Linked DNA regions of Homo sapiens: region 2 is linked to region 1. The links come from fine-mapping of genetic effects on gene expression. A gene starts in region 1. The other region holds a variant in brackets. All regions are shown on one strand. Distances are between the middles of the regions.

The links.
Region 2: its variant is fine-mapped to the expression of TIPRL in whole blood (TOPMed, PIP 0.91).

What each region holds. Positions count from the first base shown.
Region 1 is chr1:168,177,299-168,180,210 of GRCh38, reverse strand. TIPRL (TOR signaling pathway regulator) reads right to left here and starts at 1,249. Exons shown (of 7, transcript NM_152902.5): 1 at 1,030-1,249. The coding sequence starts at 1,133. RefSeq lists enhancers at 1,018-1,137, 1,125-1,626.
Region 2 is chr1:168,140,893-168,143,804 of GRCh38, reverse strand. No RefSeq gene overlaps it. Among named protein-coding and RNA genes, the nearest start is that of GPR161, 5.4 kb to the right of the region's middle. The variant T/A (reference allele first, on the strand shown) is at 1,548.

The DNA.
Region 1 (2,912 bases):
CCAGGGACTTAATCTTCTAAAACCTATCTTTTCTCTTACTAACTGGTCTCCTTCCCATCCCTGCGGACCTGCAATCCAGCCTCAACATGGCCTCCAGAGAAATCTTTCAGAGCGTACATCTGATAATGCAGCTCCTTTGGATAAAATTACACCCAGTGGTTGTCAGATAAAATTGAAAACTCCTTAGCCAGGCATAAAAATTCCCTCAGTATCTTGATTCCCCTGGGGCCTACCTCTCATCTCTCACAACACCCCCTATGGTACCTCACGCTCCAATCACACGGACACAGCTCTTTAAACACATCACAGCTTTCACTCTCCCTGAGCCCCCAGCTTTACATGCGTCCCCTGATTCCCCTAAATTTTGTCAAGATTCAGCCCAGGCATCAAAAACGCATCACAACTCACTCTGCCTGACCTGATGGCATGTACCTATCCACCGCCCCCCGCAACGGTTTTATAAAGATTCAGTTCAGGCATCCCAATTTCCCAGATGGTTCGAGCCCCTAAAAGACCTCACATCACTCCGTGTATACATCTTCATTACATTTATTCACGCTGTAATATAATTGTCTGTCTCTCTCACGAGACTGTGAATTGAGGCGCACGTTGTCTTTTACATTTCCTATCTCAAGCGCCGGGCACAGCACCTGACGTGACAGAAACCAAACTTATAAATCATCCCCGTCATTAACCCCTAAGAAAACAGGCAACAGCCACCCAGAAAGAAAGGTGGTGCAGGCTGAGGCAGGAGGAGACGTTTGGTGAGGGGAAAGTCCACCAGAACAGTCACACTCTACTCAAACCCAGGCGGATTGACAGTTGACGAAAGCAGCGCCTGGCGATCCCCAACCAAAGGGCCCGGAAGTGTGACTGGATTATTTATCGAAGTTGTCAATCAAAGGTCCGGTCCGGAGGGACCGAACCTCCGCCTCAGGGAAAAGGGGAGGGGCTGCACAGAGTTCGCCCTGCCTCCCGCCCTGGGCCAGCAACCGGCCAGCGCCCAGACCCCGTGCCCCGAAGCCTCACTTCTCCACATCCGCCGACTTCATGATGTGGGTCTTGGACGCCGTCAGCTTCCAGGGCCCGAAGCAGAAATCCCGGTGGCTGCTCTGGAAGCCGTGGATCATCATGGCTGAGGCAGGACCCGCAGAGGCCACAAGGAATAAGCTGAAGCAGCGGCGGCGGCGAACACCGGTTCCTCCGCCTCCCTCCGGCCCAGCCTCCTAGGCTTCCGAGCCGTTACCATGCCCGGCCCCGCCCCCTGCCGGCCGACCCGGACGCGGGCTCTGCTTCCCGTCTTCTTCTCCGCCTCTTTGCTTTTTGCTTCCGGGACTAGTTGCTCTTGTTGCGTGACCCACGTCTTACGTTCCGGCGTTCCGGAAAAAAGGAAAAAGGAGAAAGTCAGAGGGGCGGCACTTGGGTTGCAGAAGGTGTGGTTAGGAACGCACCGCCCTCTTGAACTCGTTGGGTGACGTCATCTCGAAGGATTTTAGGGACTGCCAGGGAAGGGGATGACGGTTCCAACTTGATCCTTACAGACCTCAAAGCAGTGTGATTACCTCATGTGTTAGTGAATCGTGTTACAGAGGAAATTTTTCTGTTTTGAGGTCAAAAAAAGAAGTAATCCCACAGAGTTTAGGAAATCCAGCACCAACAAGATTTAGAAGTGGCCATCTAGCCACTCTTGACTATGACCAACTCCTATCAAAAATTGCATCCTCGTAGATATGCGAAGACTTTCCATGGTCTAGTTGCTATGTAGGCACCCAGTATAGTGAAAACAACACAGCTGACTTAGTGCTAAATCTCCATTTGCAACACTATTGTGTGAATCCTTGGGCAAAGCGCTTCTCTAACGATTTTAGGCTTCAGTTGCCTCAAAATGAGATGATTTTGTTAATGGAAAAAAAACAAATTCTGTAAAAGGTTTTAAAGAGATTTATTCTGAACCAATATGAGTGACCATGGCCCAGGGAATAGTCCCAAGAGGTCCTAACAAAGAGCATCTGAAGCGGTGGCATTACTCTTTGTTTTATACATTTTAGGGAGTTGGGAATTGCAGGTAAAATAAGTCAATATATGGAAGATATACATTGGTTCAGGCTAAGGAAGTGGGATGTCTTGAAGGAGAGGCTTACAGATCATAGGTGGATTCAAAGATTTTCTGATCGGCAATCTGTTGAAAGATTTAAGCTTTAGTCAGGCGAGGTGGCTCCTGCCTATAATCCCAGCATCTTGGGAGGCCTAGGTGAGAGGATTGCTTGAGTCCAGGAATTTGAGACCAGCGTGGGCACCAGAGTAAGCCCTCATCTCTACAAACCGTGTTAATTAGCTGTGTATGATGGTATCTGCCTGTAGTCCCAGGCCACTTGAGAGGCTGTGGTGGGAGGATCTCTTGAGCCTCAGAGGCTGCATTGAGCCATGATCATGCCACAGCACTCATGCCTGGGTGAGCGAGACCCTGTCTCAAAAACAAATAAAAACACAGGCCAGGTGCAGTGGCTCAAGACTGTAATCCCAGCACTTTGGGAGGCCAAGGTGGGTGGACCACCTGAGGTCGGGAGTTCAAGACCAGCCTGGCCAATATTGTGAAAACCTGTGTCTACTAAAAATACAAAACTTAGCCAAGCACGGTGGTGGATGCCTGTAACCCCAGCTACTAGGGAGGCTGAGGTGGGAGAATCACTTGAACCTGAGAGGCAGAGGTTGCAGTGAGCCGAGATCGTGCCACTGCACTCCAGCCTGGGTGACAGAGTAAGACCTTGTCTCAAAAACAAACAAACAAACAAACAAAAAACAGTGTTAAGCTTTGTCTAAAGACTTGAAGTCAGTAGAAAGGAATGCTTAAGAAAAGGGAGTCTGCTATCTGTCATGTGATTCTACACCAGTCAGGTTGGAAAGTAAGGCAC
Region 2 (2,912 bases), 36 kb after region 1:
CTACTTCAGCCTTCCAAAGTACTGGGATTACAGGCATGAACCACTGTGCCTGGCTTCTTATTCTTTTTGATGTTCAAATTGTCCCTTCAGATCAGCTCTTGTATCTTTTCAAAATGACCCCATTGGTCTTTGAAATCTCTTTTCTGGTACACAAAGATATTCCAGATTCATTTTATATGTTTTGTTTTTTTTTTTTAAAAAAAAGCATATAAAGTTCAGACCTGGAATAAGCCATTTCTGCAAGGAGCCTTAGTTCCTCTTAATGAGAAGTGGTATTTTAAGACTACGTCTGCTTGCTAGCAGTGTTCATTGCTACAGGAGTGCTCACTCCTTCTGTGTTCTCATTTCTTCTTGCCTTTTGAGTGGTTAGGGTTGGCAAACGCAAATTATTCTTTGCAGGTAGGTTTTTACTTACCTATACACTTTTATATTTTTTTCCTTGCGAAAAATCACAGGTCCCACAACATAAAGGTAATTACTTATTTGCTTTTTTCTATGTGTGTGTGTATTTTTTTCTTTTTTTGAGACGGAGTCTCGCTCTTTCTCCCAGGCTGGAGTGCAGTTGCACGATCTCGGCTCACTGCAAGCTCCGCTGCCTGGGTTCACGCCATTCTCCTGGCTCAGCCTCCGGAGTAGCTGAGACTACAGGTGCCCGCCACCACACCCGGCTAATTTTTTTTTGTATTTTTAGTAGAGACGGGGTTTCACTGTGTTAGCCAGGATGGTCTCGATCTCCTGACCTCAAGATCCGCCTGCCTCGGCCTCCCAAAGTGCTGGGATTACAGGCATGAGCCACCACGCCCGGCCTTTTTCTATGTATCTTAATTGTTTCAGACAACAATACCAGAGTACCACTGACATAAGAGAACTGAGTGAGATTGAGTTTTGTTTTTTTTTTGAGATTCTTTTTGTCCTAAGAACATATCCCACTAGGAAAGTGCCATCAAAATATTATATTCTAAACTCACTTGAAATTTTTGTTTTGAGCCGGAGTCTCACTCTGTTGCCCAGGCTGGAGTGCAGTGGCAGGATCTCAGCTCACTGCAACCTCCATCTCCTGGGTTCAAGCAATTCTCCTACCTCAGCCTCCCAAGTAACTGGGACTACAGGCATGAGCCACCATGCCTAGCTAATTTTTGTATTTTTTTTTTTAGTAGAGATGGGGTTTCGCCATGTTGGCCAGGCTGATCTCGAACACCTGACTTCAGGTGATCTGCCCACCTTGGCCTCCCAAAGTGCTGGGATTACAGGCATGAGCCACCGCACGCGGCCCAAAAATTTGTTTTTTAAAAACTTCTTTAAAAATGATTTTTCTTTTTCTTTAGAGACAAGGTCTTGCTATTTTGGCTAAGCTGGTCTTGAACTCCTGGGCTCAAATTATCCTCCCACCTCAGCCTCCCAAAGTGCTGGGATTATAGGCACGATCCATTGTGCCTGGCCCTGAAATTCTTTATATTGTTGTGGCAGAATTGGAAGATAGCTTGACAAAGATGCCCTTTCCTAATCCCCAGGACCTTTGAATATAATGAGATATCATTCCTAGGATT[T/A]TGTTGTTTGATACAGTTGACCTTACGACAGGGAATGTAGACCTGATGTATCACATGAATCCTTAAAAACAAAGAGCTCTCTCTGGCTGAAAGGGGAATTAAGAGGAAGCCAGAAAGGTCAGGGTATGAGAAGGATTTGACATGCCTTTGCTGACTTTGAAGATAAGGGGACCACATGAGGAAGAATTGCAGGCAGCCTCTGGGAGCAGAGGGTGGCCCCACTGCCAGCCAGCAAAGAAATGGGGGTTTCCATCCCACAGTGGCAAGAAACTAAATTCTGCTGGCAGCCTGAACAAGCTTGGAAGCAGAGTCCCCGCAAAAGCCTCCATATAAGAGCTCAGATTAGCCAGCACCTTCATTTTGGCATTCACATGAGCAGAAAACCCAACTGAGCCTGCCTGGACTTCTCTCTAAACTGTGAGATTAAAAAAAAATGAGTGTTTTGCCAGGTGTGGTGGGTCACACCTGTAATCCCAGTGACTCGAGAAGCTAAGGTAAGGGGATTGCTTGAGGCCAGGAGTTCAAGACCAGCCCAGACAACATAATAGAGTGTTTTAAGCTGCTAAATTTGTGGTAATCATTATGCAGTGACAGAAAACTAATAAAAGTTCATATGCCACCAACTTGATATTCATCCTAGTTTTTCTTCAGTTTTTGGAGGTTTTTTCTTTTTTGAGTTAACTTTTCTCAAATTTGTAAAATATGTACTTAGTTTCAAAGCCATACAGCAAGGAACCTTCCTAGAAACCTTGCTTTCTTTTTCATTCCTTCTGTTTGTTCCTTTCCCTTATTGGAAACCTTCTTTTTATTGTTTTTGGTTTGTTTTTCCACTTTTAAGTATAAGCAAATACCTATATATTTATTTTCTTTCCTTTTCTCACATAAAAGATAACATAGGCTGGGCGTGGTGGCTCACACCTGTAATCCCAGCACTTTGGGAGGCCAAGGAGGGTGGATCATTTGAAGTCAGGAGTTCAAGACCAGCCTGGCCAACATGGTGAAACCCCGTCTCTACTAAAAATAAAAAATTAGCCTGGTGGTAGTGGGGCGCGCCTGTAATCCCAGCGACTCGGGTGACTGAGGCAGGGGAATCGCTTGAGTCTGGGAGACAGAGGTTGCAGTGATCTGAGATCGCGTCACTGTACTCCAGTCTGGGCAACAAAGTGAGACCATGTCTCAAAAAAAAAAAAAAGATAATGTATAGCAAATATTCCTGCACCTTGCTTTTTTCCACTTAACAATACGTCTTTGAGGCCACTACATGTTAGTGTATAGAGATTTTCTTCATTCATTTGTAGCACTGAATCCTAACTTATTCCTCTAATCCCCTACTGACAGACATTTGGGCATTTTTAATCTTCTGTA